Linked DNA regions of Homo sapiens. The protein of the gene in region 1 interacts with the protein of each later gene in a pairwise test. Each region holds a gene or a part of one and is shown in the gene's direction. Other genes may lie near its edges.

Region 1 (15,261 bases):
TGGTGGAAGGCAACTGGAAGGTGGCGTGTCATGTGGTAAGACAGGAAGCAAGAGAGAGAGGGAGGAGGTGCCAGGATCTTTTAAACAACCAGCTTTTGAGGGAGCTCATCGTGTAAGAACTCATTACTGTGAGGACAGCACCAAGCCATTCCTGAGGGATCCACCCCCATGACCCAGTCATCTCCCCCTCAGCCCACCTCTAACACCAGAGGTCACATTTCAACATGAGATTGGAAGGGGACAAATATCCAAACCATATCACGGATGAGCCTCAAAAGCGTTTTGCTAAGTGAAAGAAGTCAGACACAAAAGTTCACATATTGTAAGGTTTCATTTATACGAAATGTCCAGAACAGGCAAATCCATAGAAACAGAAAGTCAGCTGGTGGTGGCCAGGGGCTGGGGGTAGGAGGGGGTTCTGGGAGCAACTGCTTAGTGGGCAATGTGGTCCTCTCTGGGGGTGATGAAATGCTTTGGAACTAGATAGAAGGAATAGTTGTACCATATTGTGAATGTACTAAATGCCAATCAGTTATACACTTTAAAATGGGGAATTTTATGTTATGTGAGTTTCGCCTTGATTTTTTCAAAAGGGAGGAAAAGAAGGGGTGCTTGTGGCCACTGCCAAGAAGAGAGGAGTAATCCAGTGAGGACTGGGCTTTACGCAGATTCCCACCTGGCCATCCCAGTAGCCCTGTGATGGACCTGTTCATATTAATACTTCCATTCTACTGGTGAGGAGCCTGGGGCTCCTGCCCAGGCTTGTGTGGGTTGTGAGTGGCGGCGCTGGGCTTGAAGGCGAGGTCCGTGGCTGTCTTGTGCAGTCCTTGCCGCAGGCCTGCCGCTCTGCTGCTTGCCTTGTAGCAATCGTCTCATCTAATTTTCACAAGCCGTGCAGCAGGTGCTGTCTCTGTGTTATAAAGGGCATGGGTGGACCGGGGGGTTACAGCCACCCTGGTGACAAGTGATCAGAGGACAGGAGGTCCCTGGCCCAGGGCCTTGAAGGAAGACAAGTCATGGGTCACTTGGGAAGGCACAGACCGACAGTAAGAGGCTGTGACAAAGCGGCTCAGAGGGAACGCGGGCTTCGGGAGCAGGCACATCGTGCGGGGCTGGAGAGCAATGGGACTGGGTCTGCAGCGCTGTGAGGAAGGGAGTCCAGGGGAGGAACAGCACACGCCAAGCACAGTGTGAGCCAAGAACAGGGCCCCAGGGGACTGGAGGCCTGGTCAGGTGAAGGAGCTGATTGGTAGACAGGCGGACCAGGTGGACATGGCTAGATCATGGAGGGCTCCTGCCAGGTGCCAACCCCCACTCCTGTGTCTTCTCGGAGGCAAAGGCCCCTTGTGCCACCTCTGGTGGCCAATAGGCTGGAACCTGAACTTGGGATATGGAGGGCAGATAAGGGTGGGGAGGGCTATTCTATGGGCAGGCCGAGCGGGCAGCCTGGGACTCTGGCTCAGCTGTCAGTCCCAGAAGAGGGGTCTGAGGAATTCCAGGAAGCGAGGGGAGGAACCAGCCCCACTGCCCCTGCCTCAGAATCCCCCAGGCGGACGTCCCAGCACCAGGAAGTGAGTAACTGCCTCTCCAGACCTGCAGACGACAGCCCCGCTGCCAAGGATAGAATTAGGAAGAGTGGCCAGGCCGACTGCCAGGCTGAGGGCTACTTCCCGCCAAACCTGGGAACCCACCGTCACCTCCCAGGGCAGCAGAGGGATAGACGGACAGAGGAAGGACTGGCCTCTTCTTCACCTTGCCCCCACCTCAGGTCCCTCTCCATCTCACTTCTGGAGGTTTTTGCACCAGGAATAGCCAGGACTTTGCTTGCTTTAAGCGTTTATTTCTTCCAAACGCATTTCATAAACCCTTCAGAGGACTTTGCATATTTTCTTAACACTAAGGACCTCTATTTATAAGACACCAGCTTTCAAGGGAAAGAATAATTGCAGATTAAATCTACCCACTTCAATTTCTTAAGTGTTAGAGTGGAGAAAAGTCTCTGAGTTGGGGAAGTCCCTGCCAAGCCCTGGGTGAGGAACTGGGCATTCCCTCTCTCCCTTGTTTGCCCAGCAACCCCCAGAGGTGGAGGGTAGGGCTCACTTCTCCAGAGTCTCGTCACTCCAAGTCTCTCTGCTGGAAGCAGTGGTGCCCGGTTCAGAGACACTCAAAGTGAGTCCAAGGCGTTCCATCCAGAGGCCACGCTTTCCATTCAAACCAGGACTTGCTTCAAAGGCAGAAAGAAGGCAGCGGCGTTCTAACAGATACCAAGGCAAGAGACCCGGTCACATCCTTCCTTACTGGTGTTGTTTCCCTACATTGGCCAACCACACCCACCGAAAAGGGGAGGGCAGGGCCCCAGAGTTCCTGCTCCTTTGAGTCCCCCCACTCCCTGTGAGAGGAAGGTAGAGAGTGCTGATGAAACGTGCACATACCAAGAAGTGAAAGGAAAACAGATGAGCTTGTTTTCTGCAGTGTTTCTGCAAGCTGTGAAATAGGCACAATTCTGGTGGTTTTAAATAAGAGCTAAATGCACTGGTTTTTGTGCTTATAACTGGCATTGAGTGATATCAAGGTGAATGGTAAATGCATGCTAATAATTTAACGTTTTAATTTTTCTATACTCTCAAGGTGAATGGTAAATGCATGCTAATAATTTAACGTTTTAATTTTTCTATACTTAGAACAACATTAAACAGCAAATTTTAAAAACACCATGACAGGCCAGGAGCAGTGGCTCACTCCTGCAATCCCAGCATTTTGGGAGGCTGAAGGCAGGGAGATCACTTGAGGTCAGGAGTTTGAGACCAGCCTGGCCAACAGGGTGAAACCTCATCTCTACCAAAAATACAAAAATTAGCTGGGCATGGTGGCACACACTTGTAATTCCAGCTACTCGGGAGGCTGAGGCAAGAGATTTGCTTGAACCCGGGAGGTGGAGGTTACAGTGAGCCAAGATCACACCACACCACTGCCCTCCAGCCTGGGGGAGCAACAGAGTGAGACTTGGTCTCAAAATAACAAAACAACAACAACAACAAAAAAGAACACTTGTCATGACAAGTCAAAAGAGAGACCACAGAAGAAAGGAAAAAGCCTTATGGCTTAATACCTTTACCAACACTTCTTTCCTGCTTTTTGAGGAATGGGCCCATTTTTCACTTTGTACGGAGTCCCACAAATTCTGTAGTTGGCCTGCCTGTCATACGTTTCCGTGAATGCTAAGGAAAGGATGGTGGCTGGAGGCGGAGCTGTGCAAGAAGAAACAGCAATACAAAAGGGGGAAATTCGGCCGGGCGCAGTGGCTCACGCCTGTAATCCCAGCACTTCGGGAGGCTGAGGAGGGCGGATCACGAGGTCAGGAGATCGAGACCATCCCGGCTACCACGGAGAAACCCCGTCTCTACTAAAAATACAAAAAATTAGCTGGGCATGGTGGCGGGCACCTGTAGTCCCAGCTACTCGGGAGGCTGAGGCAGGAGAATCGCTTGAACCCGGGAGGCGGAGCTTGCAGTGAGCCGAGATCGTGTCACCGCACTCCAGCCTGGGGGACAGAGCGAGACTCCGTCTCAAAAAAAAATAAAGGGGGGGGCGGAATTCCGCTTACAACAACAGCATACATAATATGATCCTGTTCATGTAAAGTGGGATATATTGAAGTACGGACATATATAACACTATATAATGAATATATGTAAACACACAGAAACATGGCATCAAATTCTTTTTTTTTTTTTTTTTTTAATTTGAGACACAGTTTCATTCTGTCACTCAGGCTGAAGTGCAGTGGCGCAATCTCGGCTCACTGCAACATCCGCCTCCTGGGTTCAAGGGATTCTTCTGCCTCAGCCTCCCAAGTAGCTGGGATTACAGGCTCCTGCCACCACACCTGGCTAATTTTGTATTTTTTAGTAGAGACAGGGTTTTACCATGTTGGCCAGGCTGGTCTCAAACCCCTGACCTCAAGTGATCCACCCGCCTGGACTTCCAAAGTGCTGGGACTACAGGCGTGAGCCACCGCGCCCAGCTGGCATCAAATTCTTAATCATCTCCAAGCTGTACACTTTTCAGTTGATTTTCACTTTTTATCATACACATTAAGTTCAAATAATAGAGAAACAATACATCCATATTATGTATATGATCAGCTGTTTTTTTTTGTTTTTTTTGTTTTTTGAGACAGAGTCTCACTCTGTTGCCCAGGCGAGACTGCAGTGGTGCAATTTCGGCTTACTGCAACCTCCACCTCCCAGGTTCAAGTGATTCTCCTGCCTCAGCCTCCTGAGTAACTGGCATTACAGATGTGTGCCACCATGCCTGGCTCATTTTTGTATTTTTTAGTAGAGACGGGGTTTTGCTATGTTGGCCAGGCTGATCTCGAACTCCTGACCTCAGATGATCCGCCTGCCTCGGCCTCCCAAAGTGCTGGGATTACAGGCGCGAGCCACTGCACCCAGCCATGACCAGCTTTTTTAAAAAGCTGCATTTTCATTTGGGGAAGGGGAAGACATGCCGATGGAGTCAGACTTGGACTCAGCTCTTGGCTCTGCTGTTTCCACTGTGCAGGATTTAGGCCAAGTTAAGTAACTCCTCTCAGCCTCTGATTCTCCATCTGTAAAATGGGGATACTGACTGGTAACCATCTCATCAGGCTGTTGTGAAGGGTCGTGTGCTTACGTAGGGCCTGCTACAGAGATCACTTGGCAGCGAGTCGCCATGCGGGGCTAGGGCTGGGGGGCTCATGCCTGTGCCAGAGGACAGTGCCCCCACAGGCTGTGCAGGAGGCCTCTGGGAAGGGAGGCCAGAGGCAGAGAAGGCAGGCCAGAGATGGCACGCATGGGCACATGGGCTGGGAGGCGCATTGGGGACGCAGAGGCTCTCTAGAGTTCTTAGCTGTGAGTGTTAGTGCCAATCAGGCAAAACTACAGGCTCTGCATGGGTTTTGCCATGAACCCAAATCAGCACTTATCCTCTGACCCTGCTTTCCAGTTTCCCTGCTGGTCTGTCTGACCTGTGTGTAACTGGTCAGCCTTTTGCAGGGCGGCTGCTGATTCACAGAGGACCAGGGAGTGCCTTTCTGGTCAGCACTGTGGCATTCTGGACAAAAGCACAGCCCGCTCCTGGAGGCCGACGAATAGAATAATGGCCTTCCCGGGAGGACCTGTGCCTTACACACAGACATGTGGAGAGAAAGATCTGGAACATTGGGGTGGAGGGTGGACTTTCATAAACAAACATGTACACACATGTCTACAGCCCGCTTTTATGCTGTTCTGTTTGGCCTGGTCTTTCCTTCATCCCAGTAAGGTTGGATCTGGGCACTTTTCCCTATAGACTGCTTGTACTCCTTGCAGAGGGCACCTCCTATGTGCCGGGTGATAAATAGCAATAAGTAAGACGGGGTCCTTGCCTCGTGGTGTTCTCAGACCACCAAGAACAGTTCCGGGGTGTGTTAGAAAACAGGCATGCAAGAGGTGCGGACAAGACCAGGGGCTTCAGGAAAGGCCCCCAGGCAGCCTCCCAAGAGAAGAGCAGGCTTGATTCAAGCGAGGGCGAGAAAGGGCATTTCAGGCAGAGATTGCCACATCAAAGGCCCCGGGTCAAGTGCAATCCTGCCCCACTCAGGAGTGCGAGGGGGGTCTGTGGGGCTAAAGTACAGAGGGCTGGCCGTGGCTGGGGAGGCTGCAGTGGCCGGGGAGGAGACAGCAGGAGGAACAGCTTCTTATCGTGCCATGTGAAAGAGCCCTGCTTAGTGGGGCAGGGTTTTGCCAAAATAACTGGATCCCTCCTGTGGTCCTTGCTGAACGCAGTTGGGCTGACTCGAACCTGGAGGCTTTACAGGGCTGAGCCACCCCCTGCAGACCCCAGCCAAGGAGACTGAGTGGTGAGGAGTGTGATGAGGCTGCCGCTGCAGGGACTTTGCAGGGGCGTTGAGACAAACCTTCTCATAGCAAAAATGCAGTACAAAAGTGTGCCACTCCAGACATAAACTGGGTGCTACTGAGTCCTCAAGGAACACTTTGAAATCCTCCGCCTGGCTCTGCCCATAGGCAGGGGACTGGCCTCAGGGTAAACTCCTCCGAGGCACGGGGATGTCTGAGGCATGGGGATGACTGATTCATTCACTTCTGCTTGACAATGCACTGCCTGGCTATGTGGGTATCTGATAAATGAGTGTGTGGGTGGATGGATGGAGGGAGGGAGGGAGGGAGGCAGTGAGAGAGGGAGGGATGGACTGATGGATGGACAGACAGACGGATGGATGGATGGACGGATGGACGGACAGATGGATGGATGGATGGATGGTTGGATGGATAGACGGATGGACAGACAGACAGGCGAATAAGTAAATGAATGGTTGGATAGGTGGATAGGCAGGTGGGCGGATGTGTGGGTAGATACCAGTGTAGATGAATGGAAGAGTGTGTAATTGTTTTATAAGATTAAAATATTCTTTTGATGGCAGGACACAACACAGTGACACTCAGATAAATGAAAGGTAGAACTTTTGTTTCTTACAGCTCCAAATGAGAGGCTGTCAGGCTGGGCCACACAGGATGTGCAACTGGGGACAGGGTCCAAGCAAGCTGGAGCTATAGGCGGCAGCTATGTGTGGCACGTAGGGTGGTGTTAACGAGGTTTCCTTGGCTCCCTATGGATTGGCTAACTTAAATAAGTTTGTGAGTTCCAGATGATGGGAGCTGTCCATTATTGTTTGGTACCTGGCTCCAAGGCCATCAGGGCAGGTGGCTAGTGGCCCAGAGTGTGAGAACCTGGTAAGAGAAAGGGCCAGAATGTGAACTTAATCAGCTGCTCATGAACTGGCTGGCCTCCAGCCAGGACCTCAAAACTGGTTTAAAGTAGCCTTTTTAAAAAACTATATGACAGAGATGGATGGAGATGTGTGCAGATGGACAGATGTCTTTTAGAGATTTCTGTCAATGATATTTACAGAAGCATCAACATTGGATTCAGATCCTTGAGGATTTTCAACTCATAGATACAGAGCTCTACAATATCTAAGTTGGAAGAGACTTCAGAGGGTCTCTGGACGCTCATGCAGGTCTCAATATGTTGTGGATCTCAGAGCTCTTCAATATTTTAGTGAAAGCTATAGATGAGGCTCCATAGGGGATAAAGCACAGACACACCTTTTCAGAGGGCTTGTGGACTCTGGGCAGCCTGTCCATAGACCTCTGTCCCCAACTGGCAAGTCAGGAAACTCCAGATTAAGGAGCCCCAATGTGGTTGAACAGCCAGGTGCACAGATGAGTCAACCACACAGCCAGGCCAGGGAGGGCCTTCACTCAAGAGCCTACAGCCAGTTCACAGCCAAGCCAGGGCTAGCGCCCAGGCCACCCATAAACTGATCTGAGACTCTGTTTCCCTGTCTCCATGATGATGGGATCAGGCTTGATTGCTGGTTTGTAGGCTTGTTATGAATCAAGTCACAGGGAAGAGGAGCTGATGGGCTGGGGGGACGTCCTCTGGCCCTCCTGTCTCTTCCCCAGATCCACTGGGCCCACTCTTATCTGTTCTCTTCTGAAGGAAGGGTTTTAAGGCTTCAAAAAAAAATGTTTTGAAAGTCCCTGCCCTTTCCAGCTCCTACCGTCTCAGCCCTGGGAGTGTAAAGTGCTGCAGATAGTTAGTAAGTCTTTGAGCAAAACTGAGAAAGCCAGCCTGAGCCTTGACATGGGAGAAACCTCCGCCATACATCTCCGAAGAAACGGCCGCGTGTCTCAGGGGAGCGCAAACACCCGTACCCAGGAAACAGGACAGCTTCTGCCACTGTCGCCCTTGGGAGCCGTACGTGGCATACAAAGAAATCCCAGGACTCCGCCTGCCCACCTGGCCACCCTCTGTTTACACCTTCCGCGTAAACGCCCACTGTTTACATCCAAAACTCAGACACAAAATAACCACCTCAAGAAGATAAATAATGATAAGAAATAAATGTTACGCGAGGCAAATTTATTCACATGGGGCTTCCCAGGCCACTTTGTGGTCAGCCGGGAGGGACGTTTTTGCCGTCCCACGACTCCAACGGGCAGCCGGGCTACGCAAACATGGAAATCTTCCAAGAGCCTCCCTGGCCCCCAGGGCTCAGAGGGTGGCAGAGCGGAGAGCGAAGGTGGCCGCAGCCTTCCCGGCCCCACAGCCAGCCTGGCTCCAGCTGGGCAGGAGTGCAGAGCTCAGCTGGAGGCGGAGGGGGAAGTGCCCAGGAGGCTGATGACATCACTACCCAGCCCTTGAAAGATGAGCTGTTCCCGCCGCCACTCCAGCTCTGGCTTCTGGGCTCCGAGGAGGGGTGGGGACGGTGGGGACGGTGGGGACATCAGGCTGCCCCGCAGTACCAGGGAGCGACTGAAGTGCCCATGCCGCTTGCTCCGGAGAAGGTGGGTGCCGGGCAGGGGCTGCTCCAGCCGCCTCACCTCTGCTGGGAGGACAAACTGTCCCAGCACAGAGGGAGGGAGGGAGGGCAGGCAGCGGGGAGAAGTTTCCCTGTGGTCGTGGGGAGTTGGGAAAAGTTCCCTTCCTTCCGGAGGGGAGGTCTGACAGGCGATGGGGAGAAGGGTTCCCAGCAGGAGGAATCGCCCTGTTTGTCTGTTGTAGGTTTCTCTTCTCTGAATCAAGGTGACAGACAGGCTTGTGTGTGTCCAGTGTGTGAGGGATTTCGTGATTGGATTTTCACATACTTTGAGTGGACACCTTGGAGTAAGGCAGCGAGGTGTGTGTGGTGCAGCAGGGACGGGTGCTGGGTGGAGGCTCCAGAACCTGGCTTTTCACCCACAGCTGTGCCACTCCTTGGCCCTGTGTGACCCTGGACAAGCTATTCAACCTCTCTGAGCCTCAGTTTCTCTGTCTGCAAAGCAGCCAGCTCGCTGGCTCCCTGGGGGTGGCAGGGTTAAATCAGAAGCAGGCGGGGGTGGGGGGGTTTGTGAATGTTGGCTGATGCGCCTCCAGGAGGCAGGTGGTAGTGACTACCTCAGATGGGCTTAGAGACCCTCTTCCCACGGTCCTGGCTGACCAGGGCAGGGGGATAGGATGGTGCAGGGGTTCCAAGCACCGGCTTTGCATCCGGCCCAGGTTGCAGCTCCAGCCCTGCTCTCACCCTGTGGGTGACGTTTTTGGGCGAGTTATTTTGTCCTGTCTCCTGAGCTATAAAGAAGACCTGGAAGTTCCTCTTTATGCAAAGATAGAGGTAGGCTCTTGCCTGTGAAGCACCACGTATGTCATAGGCACTAAATAAATGGCAGCCGTGATTCGAGTTGCTGAGAGTAGGTCGTTTCCGCAGCCTGGGTGGAGGTGAACAGCAGGTGTTGCTGTTCCAGGCAGGTCAGAATGTGCCTCACTGAGTCACAGGCCGCCTGTGGCTCCCCAGCCTACAGGAAGTGGGAGCCCTGGCCTGGGTGTGGGGTGATGGGGGCCTCCCTGGCCAACCCCGCCCCTAATTCCATTTCTGAGTTGGAGAAGGGCTTAGGTGGTGGGGGAACAGGTAAGCAACCCCAGAGGACATTGCAAAGAGGCCCTGCCCGAGGTTCTCTGGAGAAAAAACTGTGCTGCGTCCTTCGGGCCCTGGCAGCAGCAAGAGACATTCCACAGTTGTGAGCCCCACAAGCTTGGAGGAAGCATTTGCTGTTTCCCCTGCTTGGGGTGAGAGCAGGGGACAGCCAAGAGAAGGCGTCTTTGGATGAAAAAGAGGAAGCATGCGTGCTGTCCCCACAGGCAGCACCCCAGGCCTCATCCCAGCTCTCCCTGCAACCCTGCACTCCAAGCCTCTCACTGCACTGATGAGGAAACTGAGTCTCAGAGGGGGAACATGACCTCAGCCAGCCCTTCGCTCAGTGTCCAGGGAAATGCCTCAATCTCTTTGGGATTCCCTCCCTTGCAAACGGGGAGGTTCCCATGGTTGGGCCTGCATGATGGATCTGAGGACTTTGAAAGTGGTATTTGCCTGCCGGTGGGACCCAACCTGGAAATATTAGGTTGGTGCAAAAGTCATCTCGGTTCTTGCCATTAGAAGTAATGCCAAAAACCGCAATGACTTTTGCACCAACCGAATAGCTGTGCCACGTGGTTTTTGCTAACACAGTGACTGGCTCAGTAACAAGTTTGGTGGCTCCAGAGGTAACATTAGGGCGGCCTCCTCACCTGTGCTGCTTGTGGTCAGGGAGGGGCCCACCTGGGCGCGGTGGGGGGAGCCCTGCAGATTTGCCCAGTGTCATAGCCTGTTTGAGCTGCTATAAGAAATACTTTAGACTGGGTAATTTATCAAAAAACAGACATTTATTGCTCTCGGTGCTGGAGGCTGGGAAGCCCGAGATCAAGGCACTGGCAGATTGGGTGTCTGGTGAGGACCTAGTCGTCATAGATGGCACCTTCTATGCATCCTCATATGGTGGAAGGGTGAACACGCTCTCCCAGGCCTCCTTTAAAGACCACCAATCCCATTCACAAGGAGGGGGACCTCATGATCTAATCTCCCCCCAGAAGTCTCACCTTTTAATATCACCAGCTTGGAGATTAAGTCTCAACAGGTGAATTTTGGAGGGACACAGGCATTTGGATCATAGCACCGGGGGACTCTGGTTTTCAGAATGAAAGTAGGGGCCTTGTCTATCCGCTCAAGCTGCCTCCTCTGCACTGAAAACGATGCCTAGCCCAACATGGATGGATCAGTGTTTGCTGAAATGCTGAATGGTTAAATGAATAAATAAATATTGCTCATATAGCAGGCAATAAAAAAGCATACAGAACCTATCACTAAGTGAATGAAGCTACTCTGAAAAGGCATATGCTGTATGATTTCAACTATATGTGACATTCTGGAAAAAGGCAAAACTATGAAGACAGTAAAAAATAAAAAAAATCAGTGGTTGCCAGGAATTAGGGGAGGGAGGAGAGAATGGGAGGAGCCCAGAGACTTTTAGGGCAGTGAAACTTCTGTATGACACTGTAATGGTAGAGGCATGTCATTGTGCGTTTGTGCAAACCCACAGAATGTCCATCACCAAGAGTGAACCCTGATGAAAACTATGGACTTTGGGTGATGATGATGTGTCAACGCAGGTTCATCAATTACAACAAATTGACTGCTCTTGTGGGGGATGTCAGTAACGGGGGAGGCTACGTATGTGTAGGCACAGGGGATATATGGTAAGTCTCCGTACTTTCTGCTCAATTTTGCTGTGAATCTAAAACTGCTCTTTAAAAAAAAAAAGGCACACAGAGCAGATCTGCATGTTGTTTTGAGGATTCAGAAGGCACTTAGGACAATTACGGTACCTCAGGGTCATGAGTCAAACAATCAGACCTGCCAAGACTTGACACCCCAAATGCATCACTTCTGACATCCATTGGGTCCAGGAATCCCCTGCCTCATGAATATCCATCTTAGTGTGCATGCCTCCAAGAATGGGGAGCTCACTACTTTGCGAGGCAGCGCATTCCATCTTAGGAGAGTTCTACTGTTTAAAAGCTCTTCCTCCAACTGCCCCCACTGAGCAATGGGTCCACTTTCATTTCCTTGGGGTTTGTACCATTCTAGTCCTATTGCTTCTCTCTGAGCTAAATATCCACAGCTACTAAATCTGCCCCCCTTGAAAAGTGTTAAATCCTCAATTCCTCCTCTGAGCTCCTCTGGTTTTCCTGGGGACCTAAGGCTCTGCTTCCCCAAAACACCCACTCCAGGGTTGTTTTCTAGAACAAACGTAAGGCATGAAGTATTTCTTTGACTCTTTCATCACAGTGGGTTCTGGAAGATTCTGGAGGCTGGAAACATATGTGCCTCCCCCTCCCCACACACATTCCAAAAAAGTCATCACAGCAGAAAGCACGGTGGAACAAACAGCTCTCGGTTCGAATTCACCGTCACTTACTGGCCAGGAAAGTTATCTGAGCCTCAGTTTCTTCTCCTGTACAATGGGGAGCATCATTCCTATTTTTGAGGACCACTAGGAGGCTTACCTCTGTTTGTGCTGATGTAGTGAAAGGGGATGTCAGGCACACTGCAGGAGCTCAGGTACCAGACGGACTGTCTATGGAGGCAGGAGTGAGGGCCTGGGGCGGTCACAGAGGTTGCATTTGCTTTGCAGTAAGGCCATGGCCGCTTAAGGGTGTCCAGAAAAAAGCCCTGTCCGACATGCACACACTCCTGTGTCCAGGCAATGAGCCTGTGGGCACTGACAGCAAGAGTCCTTCTCACGCTTCTCTTCAGGGCTCAAACTTTAGATTTACTCCGGCCTGTCCCATCCCATTCACTGCCAACCCCTCTGAGCCTCTCTGATCTGTGCCACCGGTGAAGGGCAGTCGTGGGGCACAGAGAAGTGGCCCAGCTGAGTGACATCTGGAAATGAGCAGTGCCTGAGGGGACGCCCGTGGGGTGTTGTGACCTGTACAGTGCCAGGCTCCAGCACAGCCCCGTCGCTTCTGTGGTTCTTATCATGGTCATGAGGTCGCTTCTCCTCTTCCCTGCGGGTTTCCTAAGTGGTCACACTCCAGTGGCAGGGTGGTCTGCCGGAGAAAGACCAAAATTTGTCATACTTTAGAATCACCTGGAGACTGGTCACCCACGCAGGTGCGGGGGTCCTGCTCTGGGGACTGTGATTTGAAGTCTGGGTACTATTCACTGAAATGACAGACTGCGGCAAATCTCAATCAATCAAGGTTCATCGAGTTGATAAACTTCAATTGACATTTATCGAGAGTTTGAGGGTGCACCTGGGAAAAACATGAGCCACAGAAAATGTGTGTGGCCTATGCTCTCCGAAGAGTCATGAGACTTAGTGTTGTAAATCAAAGAGAAACTGACTGAAGCAGGTCTCAATTATTTTTGAAGTTTATTTTGCCAAGATTAAGGATGCACCCAGGAAAGAGGGACACGAAATCACAGGAAACATCTCTGGCCCATGCTTCTTTCAAAGAAGGGTCTTCACTATTCAAAGGGAAAAAAGCAGGCAGTAGGGGAAAGAAGGAAAAATCGGGGGAAGGTGGCCAAAAGAGGCAAGCAGTTGCACCCCTTTGAGCCTTTTCATTAACTTCACTGAATGCACATTTTTCATGTGAAAGAAGCAGGTGGAGGAATCATCAATTCCGCATTCACCTGGTGCTCAGTCAATCTGCATTTTTATATAAGATAAAATAATCATAGGGCTGGGCACGGTAGCTCACAACTGTAATCCCAGCAGCTTGGGAGGCCAAGTTGTGTGGATCACCTGAGGTCAAGAGTTCGAGACCAGCCTGTCCAACATGGTGAAACCCTGTCTCTACTAAAAATACAAAAACTAGCCAGGCACGGTGGTGCATGCCTGTAGTCCTAGCTACTTGGGAAGCTGAGGCAGGAGAATCATTTGAACTCAGGAGGCAGAGGTTGCAGGGAGCTGAGATCACACCACTGCACTCCAGGCTGGGTGACAGAGCAAGACTCTATCTCAAAATAATAATAATAATAATAATCATCATCATCATCATCATAGCATATAGGAAGCTGTCAGCTATGCACTCGTCTCAGGTGAGCAGAGGGATGACTTTGGGTTCTATCCTTTGTTCCATACCTGTGAAGCTAAGCTGTTAATTTATATCATGAGGGTGAAATACAACAGAGCTGCTTGAAGGCAAAGATCCTGGGGCCCACAAGGAATTTCACTGTGAGCAAAATGTGAGGGAAGTAAATAGTTATCCATTTAGACACAAAACGGGAGGCGGGTTGCATGACCCAGCTCCCAGCTAGACTTTTCCCTTTGGCTTAGTGCGTTTGGGGTCTGGGGATTTTAATTTTATTTTTCTTTCACAGTATTTACACATGTCCTTGAAGTGGAGAAAGCATGTAGGAAGAGGAGGTTAGGCAGAAGGAGGCCTGATCTCATCTTGCCTTTGTCTTGCTTTTATGCTGTACCTGGGGAGATCAGCACCATCAGCGTGACTCTAACAGACTTGAGTGTGAGGAGCTAGGCTTGGATTGCAGACCTCAAGTTACAATTGATGTGTCCTTGTTTTGTGGTAAGATCCACATCTTGAAAGGTTTCACCCAGCAAAGAACAATTTGTGGGGGCAGTCATGGGGAGATATCCGAGGCCTTTTCCTTTCTGTGGGGGTCTGGCTAATGTCTAAGGTTGTGGAGTAACAGCTGTCATTAGGAATAAGGATGACAATGTTGGCTGACTCAGTCTCCAGGCTTAACTTTCCCTTTGGCATAAAGAGTTTGGGGGTCCCAAGATTTCTGTTTTCCTTTACAGTACTCAAGGACTTGCTAATATCTCAGGGGATTTCAGCCACACTTTGAAACAAGCTACCTTAGCAAATGGTCTGTCCTGGACCCAAAAGCCACTCTCCTCAGGCCCTTCCTCCTAGTCCCACCAGCCAAAAAACTTGGGGACCCCAAACCTGTTCTTCACTCTCTGGCACCTGTGCTCATGTGCCTGCTGCCTCAGGAAAGGACAGAAACCCTCCCCGATCCAAGTTATTAGCAAACTGCCCATCTCCACAAAAATTTAAATGGACAGATTGTTAAATGCACACAGCTCACAGCCAGCTCCTTTCAAGGTAGATTTGGGCCCAAACATTTCGGGAAGCATCAGGCTGTGCCCCGCCATCCCTACCAAACAGGAATCCTCTCGAGGGAAAAGACTGGGCCTTTCCCTCAGCCCCTAGCACCCACTCATGCTTGGCACCTGCTGTGCTCTAAGAGTGCAGGGGTCACTCCCTGACCACAGAGGGAGGCTCTCTGGGGTTCTCCCGGAGCCTCGGAGATTGCACCTTGTGCATGCGCTGCTGCACCTGGGGTACATCACCCCCACTCTGGAGCCCACTGGCCGGTTAGCAAAGTGAGAGGTGAGAGAAGGACCTCTTGGTCTTCTTTGAACAGAAAGATCCAGAAAGCAATGGCTAGAACACAAGAACAGGTCAGGGGAGGCAGGAGAGGGTCTGCACACCTGCTACAGGTGTGCTCACACGTGGGCCAGGGCCTGCAGATGAGGGATCTGTGCTGATCATTTGTGATAGCCAAAAGTAGTGAAAACCTGGGGGGACTCCTCAAATGAACTGTAGCACATTGGGGAGATGGACTCTGTGAAGATGATTCCTCTCTCCACCCACTTCCCTTCTCCCTCCTCCTCCCGCTCCTCCTTTTTCGGAAGCCAGGCACAGGGATTGAATCCCACCCCATTCCTCCCCTGCTGTGTGACCTAGGGCAAGAGATGTGGTCTCTGGGATCCTTCGGTTCCTTCAGCTATAAATAGTAGTAGAATTGCAAACTACCTACGAAAA
Region 2 (15,139 bases), on another chromosome or scaffold:
ACTAACTCCTGGCCTCAAGTGATTTACCTGCCTTGGCTTCCCAAAGTGCTGGGATTACAGGAGTGAGCCACTGCTCCCAGCCATAATTCCTTATGATTTATATGGTAGCTTTGAGCATTATCTCCATATAGAATTTTTATGCATAATTTCCAACATCATGCTGTTTGCCAAAAAATAGCCACCTTTAGTAGCTATAAATCGTAATAGACTGGATATGTGACTTGCATTAGCTTTTTTTCCCCACTTAAATTTAAACACGTTTTCCATTTTCTCAGGTTACTTTTGTTTTTTTTTTTTTTTTTTTTTTGATATGAAATCTCACTCTTTTTGCCCAGGGTGAAGTGCAGTGGCACAATCTCAGCTCACTGCAACCCCTGCCTCCCGGGTTCAAGTGATTCTTCTGCCTCAGCCTCCCAAGTAGCTAGGATTACAGGCATTCTCTACCACATCCAGCTAATTTTTGTATATTTAGTAGAGACGGGGTTTCACCATGTTGGCCAGGCTGGTCTCAAACTCCCGACATCCAGTGATCCGCTAGCCTCAGCCTCCCAAAGTGCTGGGATTACAGGTGTGAGCCACCACGCCCAGCCATTTTCTGTTTTAAGGTATTTTTAAAAGGATACCATGTGAAACCAGAGTGTATCATCCATAAACACAGTTAATGTGCCACTGTTTCCTTTTCCTAAAATGGCATTTTTTTTTTGCCTTAGGAAGTACATAATTTTATAGTGTTAACCTACCCGTGAGATTTGCTTAATACATCTTGATGTTCCTTGCCTCGATTAAATATATGGTGTCTTTTTTTTTTCCCATAAGGTATTGTAAGTATTACTGTTGTATTGCAGTCACTTTTCTACAGGTAATGGCTCATTCTTTTGAGACACTTACCTGTAATGATTTCTTGAAAACACATGGGGCCAGGCATGGTGGGTTACTCCAGTAATCCCATTACTTCAGGAGGCTGAGGCAGGCAGATCACCTGAGGTCAGGAGTTTGAGACCAGCCTGGCCAAAATGGCGAAACCCTGTCTCTCCTAAAAATACAAAAATTAGCTGGGTGTGGTGGTGCATGTCTGTAGTTCCAGCTACTGGGAAGGCTGAGGCAGGAGAATCACATGAATCTGGGAGGCGGAGGTTGCAGTGACTGAGATGGTGCCACTGCACTCCACCAGCCTGGATGACAGAACGAAACTCTGTCTCAAAAAAAAAAAAAAAAAAGGAACAAAAAAACACGGACATTCATTCTATTACTATATCCTATTCTATTGCTTTTTTTTTTTTTTTGGGAGACGGAGTCTCTCTCTGTCGCCCAGGCTGGAGTGCAGTGGTGTGATCTCCGCTTACTGCAACCTCCGCCCCCCGGGTTCAAGCGATTCTCCTGCCTCAGTCTATGAAGTAGCTGGGGCTACAGGCGTATGCCACCATGCCCGGCTAAGTTTTGTATTTTATTTTTATTTATTTATTTTTTGAGACGGAGTTTCTCTCGTTGCCCAGGTTGGAGTGCAATGGCACAGTCTCAGCTCACTGCAACCTCTGCCTCCTGGGTTCAAGTGATTCTCCTGCCTCAGCCTCCCCAGTAGCTGGGATTACAGGCATGCGCCACCACACCCGGCTAATTTTTTATTTTTGTGGAGACGGGGTTTCTTTATGTTGGCCGGGTTGGTCTCGAACTCCTGACCTCAGCTGATCTGCCCGCCTCAACCTCCCAAAGTGCTGGGATTACAGGCGTGAGCCACCGTGCCTGGCCTCTTCTGTTGCTATTTTTGGATATGAAGTCCCACAATTCTTTGGTGTTAAATATTTATAATAGCTAAAATCTATTTAAAATATATTCTGAAACTCAGTTTTTTGTACCAGCCTGTAAACACTAATGCCTGACTAGTTTTCCTCACTTTAACTCGGTTTATCAGATAGCTTGCACTAAATTAGAAAGGAGAAAAATTTGAATTTGCAATTTTAAATGGTATGGGAATGTGTGCCATCCTTTTTCATCTTGAGTAAATGTACAATATTTTTTGTTTTATTTTTAGGGTGAAGCAAGAAGCATTTCATTTGCACATCTTTCTTGGACTTGGGATATACAGTTCCAGTTTATTAGCAGCAACTGCTAGGGAAATGATTTTGGTGTTTTGGGTTAATTGCTTCTAAGAAAAGTTTCATAGTGGACTGTTTAGAAGAAGAAATGAAAGATCCAGTTTGGGATTATGAAATAAACCACAAATTAAAATTTTTGTTTAAACTGTCCAGGATCTGATTTAAAAATATGGTCTTTGTTTTATATGATTAAATGGTTTGTTTTCATAGATGATATGTTACTCATTGTAAAGACCACATATTTTTATTCAGCAGTGTTCTTTAAACGGTTTCATTTAAAAAGTAACTTTTTTTTTTTGCCTGTGAATTGAGTGCTCTGATGTAAAACTTCTCATGGAGTGAAACAGTGATTTATTTTAACCAAACATTCACCAAAGCAAAGAACGGTTTCAGACCTTTGAACTGGTATGGTTTGGCAGAATAGTTTTAAATTTTGCTGTATTTGATTACTTAGAGATAGGAATTTTTAAAAATCAAAACAAAAAATACCACAGCTTAGTGTAAATGACAATTTGGCGGTTTTATGTCTTTAGAAATGTTTTGCCTTTCTAAGCCTTGTGCTAAAGGCGTATAACGGTGGTGCCTATCTACTTAAGGGGGCATTCTAGTCTTAACTTAAAAGTTGTCTAAACTGTCCCTCCCTGGCTTTTTTTGGTTTGGGGTAGACCTAAGGGTGTTTGTTAGTCTCAAAACTGTGAAGTGACATGTCAGAACAGTCCAGACTGGTAAGAAAATTAATGGCTTCACTTGAATTTAAACCAGCTCTAGATAGGAAAAAAATCAGTCTCCTCATTTGCTTTTTAAATGGAGTAGTACATCCCATATTTTAGAACAAGTAGGGGTGCCTTGCTTAAATAAAAATAGCATTTAATGTATAATTGTGTGAAGGGTTTATGGATAAAGCTGTACTTCTGTCACAATGTGGCAGTACTTTCTGCTTTAATATTAAACAGCTTGTTATTTAAATATTGGACAAAATGGCTGGCTTCAAAATATAGTCATTAATAAACTAACTTTATGTGCACCTGTGTAGGAGAATCAAAATCCTGTATGCTTTCTTTGCCTTGTTCCTGTTCTCAGGGTGACGACTGCCACCAGGAGATGCAGTTCTAGTTCTTAAAATTAAATTTGCCCAGGTTTCTGACAGGTGATACCTGGAAGAGAGACTATGTCTTCTCTTACTTAATACATAACCATCTTTGATTACCAGCTAAGATGCGAAATCACTGTACTGTAGTCAATAAATGAAGACTTGTTTCAGGCTGAAGATTACCTAAGAGTATTTATTATTGGAGTCTGTGAGTCAACTGAATATATTATTACCTCAAGTCCTGCTATATTAATATAAGTAGTAAGGGTTAATTTTCGTGTGTGTGTTCTCTAAAATCCTGTGAACATGACTTAACCAGCTTAACATCATCAGTAGTACTGCCTAGATGGAAATGCGTTTTCATATATGGTTGAATATGCCAAGCTATGAGAACTGGTATCTGTAGTTGTACGAACTATTAGAATGTGATCTTTGTTGCTCTTTCACATTTGGTATCTGATTTGCTGTGGAAAAGATCTGTGGGGCCTACTGTGAGGAATTCATCTGCAATTGATTTAAGCTAATGAGTTTTATTTGCACATCTCTGGAAAAAGAATGCAAGCAAAGCATTAAAATGCTATATGATGGATGGGTAAGGTTGAAAGGATATATCTTCTTGGCACGCTACAGGCTGAGTTTTCTGTACAAAATGTGGCCATTATTGGGAAATCATTTTATGTATTTGAATGCTCCCTTTTGTTTTTGTTCATGATCTAGGCTAGTACGTAAGTGATTGCTAAGGTGGATGTAGTTATGGGAAAGGAAGAGAAGCACATAATACAGTAAAAGTAATCTTATTTCCATGCAAGTGGAAGACGGTACCGTCTCCCCACATTTGAGAAGACTGTTTTGCATCACTCTTTGCTATTGAAGGAAGCAGTGATGGTGAATTTCCTTCTGTTTGGGTTCCTTGTGTCTATAACTTCCTTTGTGGTAAAGCCATCAGGAAGAATAGTGGGAGTGGGGCATATGGTCAGGGTGCTCATATCCTGCTTTAGCCTAGCTGCTGCTTACGGAGTGCAAGGGAGAACTCTGAGAAGCAGTATGTAAATACCAGGGAGCTGATTGCTGAATATTGTGGTCTCATCTGAATATTGTGGTCTCATCTAAATATTGACACCAGGCAATGAAGCAGAAATAGAGTATGTGTCCCTTTATGCGTGGGTAACTTAAGCTTCTGTCATGTGGGAAGGGGGACCGAATCTTCCCTGGGAGGAAGGCTCCAAATTCTCACTACTTCTGTGTTACTTGAAGGGGGAAGCATAAGGAACCCAGTTTGAAGGCAACATTGTGTGCCATGAATCTGCTTATTAATCAACATGCCTTGTTAATGTCCTCTGCCCTGAACAGCCCTTACTCAGTTCTCATTTGGAAAGTTATTTTTTGGGGTTACATCCTGTTTGTTTCAGAATTTAAAACCCTCCATGGTGGGTCACTTGAGGTCAGGAGTTCAAGATTAGCCTGGCCAACTTAGTGAAACTCCGGCTCTACTGAAAATGCAAAAATTAGCCAGGTGTGGCACACGCCTGTAATCCCAGTTACTTGGGAGGCCAAGGCAGGAGAATCGCTTGAACCTGGGAGGCAGAGGTTGTAGCGAGCCAAGATCACACCATTGCACTCCAGCCTGGGCAACAGAGTGAGACTCTGTCAAAATCAAAAAAACCAAAATACAAAAAACTCCATTGTTCTGAGAGTTTCCCCTAAATTATCGGAAGACACTCACATTGAATTGGTAGGACCTATAGTATAGAGGAGAATGGTATGTATGTCAGCAGTAGAGTTCCAATCCAAATTGCGCTATCGCATTAGAAATACATTACCCTCCCACTCCCCAAGTTCAGCAAATTAGAAGAGAATCTGAAGTTTGTAGGAAGGGAATAAAGCTGCTATAAACATTTATGTGCAGGTTTTTGTGTAGACTCGTTTTCAGCTCCTTTGGGTAAATACCAAGGAACCAGGTTGCTGGATTGTAAGTTAAGAGTATGTTTAGTTTTGGAAGAAACTGCCAAACTGTTCCAACATGACTATTTTGAATTCCCATTGACAATGAATAAGAGTTCCTGTAGCTCCTCACCCTCATTAGTATTTGGTGATGTCACTCTTGCATTTTAGCTAATGGGTGAATAGTGGTCTCATCGTTTTAATTCCCAATCCCATAGTGATGTGGAGCACCTTTTCATATACTTAATCTGCCATCCTTATATCATCATTGGTGAGGTGTCTGGATTTTCTGTCCAGAATTTTAGTTCTAGTGGTTTTCTTATTTTTAGAAAGGAAGTATAGGAAGGAAGGTTTAATCTGTCTTAAGCCTGATTATATGAAAATCAAGAATAGGCTAGGTGTGGTGGCTGACATCTGTAATCCCCGCACTTTGTGAGGCTGAAGTGGGAGGACTGCTTGAGCCTGGGAAGTCAAGCCTGCAGTGAGCCATGACTGTTGCTGCACTCCAGCCTGAGTGACAGAGTGAGACCCTGTCTCAGAAAAAAAAAAAGCAGGCTCATTTTAAAGTTGTTTATATTTTATTTTTTGAAGGAAATAAACTTGAAGAGATACAAACGGTAGTGAAGATTCTCCTTCCCCTCCTGTAATTCAGCTGTTTAGTTTCTATTCTCGCACAGCCCTGTTATCAGTTTCTAGTGTAAGCTTGCAGTGACTTTTACTTTATTTATAAGCAAGTGTTAGTGGGTGTTGTCATTTCTTTTAAAAATATAAATTATACTGTACATGCTATTTTGTATTTTGGCTTTTCTCCCACCTAAACACCCTAAAGATCATTTTCTGTCAGTATATAAAATCTTGGTGATGCCAATACCCATCCCTTAGATTGTACAAGCAGCATTTTGCCATGCTTTATCCCATAGCCTGCCTCCTGCAGTCTCATCTTTTTTTCTATATGCATGTCCAAGTAAGTTGTAGACATTTTTCACTTTTAATCCTTTCAGCATACATGTCATGGGAATTTGTTTTTGTTTTTGTTTTTTGTGTTTGAGACAGTCGCTCTGTCACCCAGGCTGGAGTTATAGTGACGTGATCCCAGCTCATTACAGCCTCCACCTCCCAGTTTCAAGCAATTCTCATGCCTCAGATTCCCGAGTAGCTGGGATTACAGATGTGCACCACCACGCCTGACTAATTTTTGTATTTTTAGTAGAGATGGGGTTTCATCATGTTGGCCAGGCTGGTCTGGAACTCCTGGCCTCCAGTCATTTGCCTGCCTCGGCCTCCCAAAGTGCTGGGATTACAGGCATCAGCCACCACACCCAGCCGTCATTGGAGTTTTTTTGAGGGAGATTTGCAGTAAGGTGAATAAATGTTAAGTGTATCATTTGATGAGGTTTTTTCTTTTTTTTTTTTTTTTTTTGAGATGGAGTCTTGTATCGCCCAGGCTAGAGTGCAGTGGCCTGGTCTTGGCTCACTGCAACCTCCACCTCCTGGGTTCAAGGGAGTCTCCTGCCTCAGCCTCCCGAGTAGCTGGGATTACAGGTGTGAGCCACCATACCCAGACTCATTTGATGAGTTTTGATGTAAAAGCATGTAACTCAAACCCCTATGTCTGGAACATCTGTATTACATCTGAATTTTTTCACCTAGTCAATTCCTGCACCTCTCTCTCCTGTCCCTTCTTCCCTCCCCTGGCAGTCAGCTACTGTTAGGATTTTGTTCACTGTAGATTAATTTTGCCTATTCTAGAACTTCATATAACGGACTCACTTATGCAGTATGTATTCTGTAAGTTCCTTTTACTCAGCATGTTTGTATGTTCATCAGTGTGTTTAAGCTTTGTTCCTTTTTATGGCTGAGCAGTGTTCTATGTATGAATGCCACATTTTAACGTTTCACCTGTTAGGTGAACAACTAACTGGTGAACAATGGGCTGTTTCTAGTTTGGGGCTATCATGAATAAAGTTGGTATGAACATGTACAACCTTTTTGTGAACCTACATTTTAATTTAATTTAATTTGGATAAGTATTTAGGAGTGAGATTATCCTGAGTTGATGTATTTTAAATTTTACTAGAAGACGACAAACCTTTTCCTAAATGGTTATCCTGGTTTACATTCCCAGAGTTCTAGTAGGTCCATATCCTTACCATTTGCTGTTGTCAGTCTATAATTTTAGCCATTGTGTAGTGGTATCTTCTGGTTTTAATTTGCATTCCCTGACAATGAATAGTACTTTTTCATAAGCTTACTAGCCATTTGGATATCTTTAGTAAAGTTGAAGTGTCTGTTTCTTCTCTTATTCAGGATGTTTTGCCATCCATTTATTTTTTTCTTATTTGCTGAAGAAATAAGATTAACCTGTAGGTTTCCATAATCTGAGTTTGGCTGATTGCCTTTGTGTGATGTTTATTAACCGCTTTTCTATTGGCTTTGGTCTTTTAACTAATCTGCAGGAGTACTTTGTTCCTATAGTGAGCTTTAAATACCTTTTCCCCCCAGTTTGTCCTCTTTGTTTGCTCATGATGGCAGAAACTATTTTTACATCGCTGAATTCTTAAATCTCCCCTTTTATAGTTTCAAGGTTTTATGTCAGCATTAGAACATCTTAGTGAAATGGTTCTGAAAGCACTTGGGGATAAAGCATGAAGGTGTATAACCAAAGTAGACTCTAGAATATGGATGGATTCATTGAAGGTCACAAGGATCACCAAGATATGTTTAAGAATCTTAATTTGAAGCCCACAGGCAAAATTTAACAAGTTTATTCAAAGACTTGTGATTTGAAAACATACCTGGTTATGGCCTGGCTTGGTGGCTCATTCCTGTAATCCCAGCACTTTGGGAGGCCGAGGTGGGCGAATCACCTGAGGCCAGGAGTTCGAGACTAGCCTGGCCAACATGGTGAAACCCTGTCTGTACTAAAAATATAAAAGTTAGCCGGGTGTGATAGTGCATGCCTATAATCCCAGCTACTTGGGAGGCTGAGGAGAATTGCTTGAACCAGGGAGGCAGAGGTTGCAGTGAGCCGGGATCACGCCACTGCACTCCATCCTGGGCAACAGAGTGAGACTCCGTCTCAAAAACAAAAACAAACAAAAATACCTGGTTATGATGGAAATAAAGAGGTTCTGAACCTTTGCTGCTGCTGCTTGACAGAAGATGGCAGACATTTGGGAATAAAGACCAAGAGCTAGGGAGACAAGTTATTAACAGTTTCTGATGGGCTGGCTGTTGATTCATTCATTTCTTGCCTCCTCAAGAAAGCAAGATGGGGCTGAGCATGGTGGCTCACACCTGTAATTCTAGCACTTTGGGAGGCCGGGGCAGGTGGATCACCTGAGCTTAGAAGTTTGAGACCAGCCTGGGCAACATGGTGAAACCCATCTCTACCAAAAATACAAAAACTAGCTAGCCATGGTGGCTCACGCCTGTAGTTCCAGCTACTCAGGAGGCTGAGGTGGGAGTATCACTGGAGCCTGGGAAGTGGAAGCTGAGATCACACAGGTTACACCACTGCACTCCAGCCTGGGTAACAGCAAGACAAAAATAAATTGCGGAATACGAGCAATGTTATGCTAGAAGAACATAGTATTTGTGATAGATGTTGTAATTGAATATGAATGATACTTTATTTTTTCTTAACTTTACCTTCCACCAGCTCACTCCATGAATGATACTTTTGTGCCATAAAGCAGCATCCAGAATGCTAAGTCATTACTGCTTTCTGGAGACTTGTACAGCTTTTTCACTGTACTTGCCCTTGCCCTTTGGAAGCCTGAGTTACCTCTTCTTTTCCATGCTTAATTAAGTCTTAGGGATCTGATATCCTCAGTGATGCTTACAACCGCTTGCTGGATTTTTTTTTTTTTTAAATATAGGGTCTCACTCTGTCGCCCAGGTCGGAGTGCAATAGCGCAATCTTGGCTCACTGCAACCTCTGCCTCCTGGGTTCAAGCGATTCTCCTATCTCAGCCTCCCGAGTAGCTGGTATTACAGGCATGTGCCACCACGCCAAGCCAATTTTTGTACTTTTAGTAAAGATGGGGTTTCACTACATGACTGGCCTCGAACTCCTGGCCTCAAGTGATCTGCCTGCCTCGGCCTGCCAAAGTACTGGGATTACAGGTGTGAGCCACTGCACCTGGCCTACTGGTTCTATTTTTAAATTAATTTTACATTTCAAGATAATTCACTGACTAAAGTTTGTGCCACTTATTCTAGGTGTAGAAATTGTGCTTGTCAGATACGTGGTTTCTGATTTGGTATATTGACTGGCATGCTTACAAGAATCTTTATACCAAAGTAGTGTGTTAACATCAAAATTAATCTGTTCCCAGCATGGGAGACCTGTCATCGATGACAGTTCCCAAACCAGCTATTGTCTAAGAATTATTAAGATTTGACTTGGGATAACTTTTTGGGTAATATATTAGGCTAAGTTAATTTGAAGGAAGTTTTACTGTAAATCAAAACAGGACCACTAAACTACTGAAATATAATTATTTAAAAACCGCCCCCATTTTTTGGTGAACAAAGCTGAAATGAGGCTGTAATGGAGAACCTCCTTTCACAGAATGGTTAAATGTCCTTTAAGAGTTTCATCATATGTTTTTATAACTTGACTTATAGTGAATGAACTAAGGACTTTGTCATAGTTCCGATCTGCTTATCAACCTTGCAAAACTTGGAGTCTATTTGGAAATAAGTAAGAACTCAAACTGCATTTAGGGATGAGTTCAGTCAGGTTCTATAGGGTTAGACCTATACTTGCTTTGAGTATGAAAGCACAATTTTTTAATATATAAACTTTATTTTAGAGTAGTTTTAGATCACTGGGTGTGGTGGCTCGTACCTGTAATCCCAGCACTTTGGGAGGCTGAGTCGGGCGGATCATGAGGTCAGGAGTTTGAGACCACCCTGACCAACATGGTGACACCCCATCTCTACTAAAAATACAAAAAATTAGCCGGGCATGGTGATGCGTGCCTGTAATCCTAGCTACTAAGGAGGCTGAGGCAGGAGAATTGCTCGAACCCGGGAGGCAGAGGTTGCAGTGAGCCGAGATTGCGCCATTGCACTCCAGCCTGGGCGACAGAGTGACACTCCATCTCAAAAAAAAAACAAAGTTTTAGATCTACAGAGACATTGCAAAAAGAGTACAGAGTTCCTGTATACGCCTCACCCACCTGTATACCTATTGTTAGTATCCTACATTACTGCAGGATATTTGTCACAACTAAGGAACCAAATTTGATACATTACTATTAACTAAATCCCACAGTTCAGATCTTTAGTTTTTTTCCAAATATTATTTTCATTCCAGGATCCCACAATTACATTCAGTTATGTCTCTTTAACCACCTCAGATGTTTTTGTTTTTAATGACTTCAGATTCCCAACCTTTTTAACTTTTTTCACGTCAGATGGGTAATGTCCTGATGTAACAAGGTGTGAAGGAGGCACATCTCACACAGAAGTGTGAAAGCCCAGTCGTCACGCTTATGAACTACAGAAGGATCCCAGACTTGTTTTTGATGACCATGACAGTGTTAAGGGGTACTAGCTGGTTTTGTAGAATGTTCGTAAGGTGAGGTTTTCTGATTGTTTTCCTTCTGGTCTTAGGAGGAAGACCACAAAGGGGCATTTTCATCACATCAAGGGTGCATATTTTTAATAGGGCTTATCACTCATTATATTAATACAAATTTTGATCACCTGGCCAAGATAGTGTTTGCCAGGTTACTATAAATTTTTTTTCTTCTTTACATATTGTACTCTTAAAGCAAGTTACTAAGCACAATCCATACTCGAAAGGTGGAGAGTTAAGCTCTATCTCCTTGAAGTGGTGAGGGGCGGGGGGTATCTACATAATTATTTGGGCTTTTTCTGTATAGGAGAGATGCTACCGCTCCATCAGGTCATATACACACATGGACTCATGGGTACTTACTTTATCCTTTGGGTTATAATCCTAAGGTGCATTATTTACTTTGTTGCTGAGATTTGTTTCATCTTTGGCCATTGGGCATTCTATCAGTTGGCTCCTGTGTCCCTTTCACATGCCTACATCCTTGTTTGTGGAACACTTCTTTACTTTCTGGCACTACAAGATGCCCTAGACCCAGAATCAGCCATTTCTCTAGGGAGCCCTGATTCCTTTTCTTGGAGAATGGTATTAGAAAACAAGATCTGGGCATTGGATGTACCCGTTGCTGCTGGCATGTCTGCTGCTAGGCCCTCTCAGTGAACAGAGATATATGCCTGTGTAATAACCCAAATAGACACACATAATTGTAATTACTTTCTGAATCCTTCCGGAAAACACAATTTTTTTTAAACTAGTAAAATATACATAAAACTTGCTGTTTTAACCATTTGTAAGCGTACATTTCTGTGGCATTAAGTGCATTCACATTGCTGTGCAACCATTACCACCATCTGTCACCAGAATTTTTCATCTTCCTCCAACACAAACTGTACCTATTAAACACTGACTCCCCATTCTGCTCTTCCTTAAGCCCCTGGGAACCATCATTTTACTTTATGCTTTGACTATTCTAGGTACTTAGTGTAAATGGAGTCATACAATATTTGTCCTATGTATGACTGGCTTATTTCACTTATCATGTCCTTAAGTTTCATCTATGTTGTAGCATGTGTCAGAATTTGTTCTTAAAGCTGAATAATATTCAATCGTATGCATATACCAAATTTTGTTTACCCATTCATCCATTGATGGATACCTGGGTTGTCTCTACCTTTCAGCTATTTTGAATAATAGGGCTGTAAACACTGGTGTACAAGTATCTGTATAAGTTCCTGCTTTGAATTCTTTGGGGTATATACCCAGAAATGGATTTGCTGGATTATATATGCTAATTGTTTTTTTTTCTTTTTTAAGAAATCACCATACTGCTGTACCATTTTACATTCCCACCAACTGTATACATGGGTTCCAGCTTCTCTATGTCCTTGTCAACACTTGTTCTGCTTTTTTGATAATAGCCACCTTAATAGGTTTATAAAGTGGTATCTCATTGTGGTTTTGATTTGTACACTTCCCCAGTGATTACTGATGTTGAGCTTTTCTGTACTTATTGGACATTTCTATATCTTTTTGCAAGAAGTGTCTATTCAAGTACTTTGCTCATTTTTTTCAGGCTTTTTATTGTTGCAGGATTTATTTGCAAATGTTTTCGCCCATTCCTTGGGTTGCCTTTTCATTCTGCTGATAGTGTCCCTTGATGCACAAATTTTTAATTTTGCTGAAGTCCAATCTGTTTTTCCTTTTGTTGCCTGTGCTTTTGGTCATACCCAGGAAATTACTGCTAAATCCAATGTCATGAAGCTTTTCCATTTTTTTTTTTCTTTTTGAGATTGAAAAAAAAGACAGGCTGCTTTTTTCTGTCTTTTCTTGCTCCGTCGCTCAGGCTGGAGTACAATAGCGCAATCGCGGCTCACTACAACCTCCGCCTCCCACATTCACGCAATTCTCCTGCCTCAGCCGCCTGAGTAGCTGGGATTACAGGTGCCCACCACCACACCTGGCTAATTTTTGTATTTTTAGTAGAGACGGGGTTTCACCATGTTGGCCAGGCTGGTCTCCAACTCCTGACCTCAGGTGATACACCTGCCTCGGCCTCCCAAAGTGCTGGGATTGCAGGCATGCACCACCACACGGGGCCAATAATTCTTTTTCTTCTTTTTTAAAGAGTTTAATGATTCTAGCTCTCTTTTTTCTTCCAACCTTAGTGGATGGAGCTAGTTCTTGATGGATTTTAAGTTAATATTTGTATATGGTGTAAGGGTCCAACTTTTTTTTGTATGTAGATATCCAGTTTTCCCAACACCATTTGTTGAAAGGACCCTATTTTCTCCACTGAATGGTCTTGGCACCCCTGTCAAAAATCTGACTATATGTGTAAAGATTTACTTCTAGGCTCTTTATTCTATTCCATTGGTTTATATGCTAATTTTTATGCCAGTACCATACTGTTGGTTACTGTAGTTTTGTGTTAAATTTTGAGATCAGTAAGTGAAGACTTCCAACTTTGTTCTTTTTCAAGATTATTTTGAGTATCGGGGGGGGGGGTCTCTTGACATTCTGTATGAATTTTAGGATTGATTTTTCTATTTCTGCAGAAATGTTGGGATTTTCATAGGGACTATTGAATCTGTAGATTACTCTGGGTAGTATTGACATCTTAACAATATTTATTAAGTCTTTGACTCCATGAAAATATGATACTTTTTTTTCTTGGCCTCCCAAAGTGCTGGGATTACAGGTGCGGGCCACCGTGCCTGGTGAAAAACATACTTTTATGTCTTCATTTTGTATGGCAACATTTTGAAGTTTTCAATGTACAAGTCTTTGCCTCTTTGGTTCAGTTTATACTATTGTAAATGGTGAAAAGCACAATTGTAAAGGAAGACAGATAGGCATACCATTAAGTCAAGGTATTCATGACTTGGTCTCCTTGCTTTTATGGGAGGCTGCACTGTAACTAAAGATCTTTGGGACGTTGTAAATTTTTTTTTTTTTTTTGAGATGGAATCTCACTCTGTTGCCCAGGCAGAAGTGCAGTGGTGTGATCTCGGCTCACTGCAACCTCCGTCCTGGGTTCAAATGATTCTCCTGTTTCAGCCTCCCCAGTAGCTGGGATTACAGGTGCACACCACCACACCTGGCTAATTTTTGCATTTACTTATTTATTTAGTTAGTTAGTTAATTTATTTTAGTGGAGATGGGGCTTCACCACATTGGCCGGGTTGGTCTCGAACTCCTGACCTCACGTGATCTGCCTGCCTTGGCCTCCCAAAGTGCTGGGATTACAGATGTGAGCCACCGCGCCCAGCCTAAATTTTTTTAAGGCTAATATTTATGTGTAATTCTAAGTAAAGTATCAAGTGACTGTTCCTCCTTATATTGTGTTACAAAGATCTTTTCAAATTAATTTAAAATTAGTTATAAAATAACTTTCTAATTTAGGGCAACACTCCTGTAGTCCATTTTTGTGCCCCACATCATGTATAGCACCTAAAAGAGTGCTAGCTCATGTAGGTGGCCAAAAAATGAGAGTGAAGATTCAAAAAAGAAATGTTGTTATTTAGGGTAAAAAAAAAGACAATCATCAATCAACAAACTAGGCTGGAATTACTAGATTTTATTTTTCCCCAGAACTCTTAAACTTCAGCTTCACCAAGTAACAGGCTGACTTTTGGAATAACAACTCTTTCCCAGGCTGTTGTTAACTCTTTCCAAGAGACAGAATTTATTAAAAAACATGGTTCCAGGATATTTCCACCCCAGAATTCTAAATCAGTCACAGAATCATACCTTCTTAGGTCTTGATTAGAATGAAACAATCTATAGACACACGTAACAGAATCAAAATATTATGTAATGTTTTTTGCCTTCTCTTGCTCAATACACTTCCCTCTTTTCCCCCAAAGAGTTTGTTACTCAAAGATAGATAGATATGTAAGTAAGTACAGTCAGCCCTCCATATCCATGGGTTCTGCATCCATGGCTTCAACCAACTGCCAATCAAAAATATTCAGAAAAAGAAAAATTCCACAAAGTTCCAAAAAAGCAAAACTTGAATTTACTGAACACCAAGCACTATGTTGAATCCATGCAAATGAAGTGATGTGTAGGTATTTTATTAGGTATAAGTAATCATCTTCAGATGATTTAAAGTACACAGGAGGATGTATGTAGGTTATATGCAAATACCATATAACCCATTCTCTATAATGGGACTTGAGCACCCATGGATTCTGATATCAAGTTGGGTTCCTGGAACCAATCCCCCATGGATACCAAGGGATGACTGTATTGCCCTTTTCAAGAAAGCATCTATCAGCTCTCATTCGTGACTCACTCAGAATAAGGAATTCCTTATTCAAAAAACAATGTAAGTATTCCGAGCTAACTGTTCTCAGCCATGAACAAATTAAACTTGGCCAGGTGTGGTGGCTCATGCCTGTAATCTCGGCACTGTGGAAGTCA

Evidence for each region.
Region 2: the proteins of BDKRB2 (region 1) and GRSF1 interact in a two-hybrid assay, tested with the Homo sapiens proteins (one study listed by IntAct).

What each region holds. Positions count from the first base shown.
Region 1 is NC_000014.9:96,196,567-96,211,827, forward strand, and holds the start of BDKRB2 (B2 bradykinin receptor), read left to right. Parts: upstream 1-8,272; 5' UTR 8,273-8,393; intron 8,394-15,261. UniProt on the Homo sapiens protein: Receptor for bradykinin. It is associated with G proteins that activate a phosphatidylinositol-calcium second messenger system.
Region 2 is NC_000004.12:70,807,752-70,822,890, reverse strand, and holds the end of GRSF1 (G-rich sequence factor 1), read left to right. Parts: intron 1-2,029; 3' UTR 2,030-7,108; downstream 7,109-15,139. UniProt on the Homo sapiens protein: Regulator of post-transcriptional mitochondrial gene expression, required for assembly of the mitochondrial ribosome and for recruitment of mRNA and lncRNA. Binds RNAs containing the 14 base G-rich element.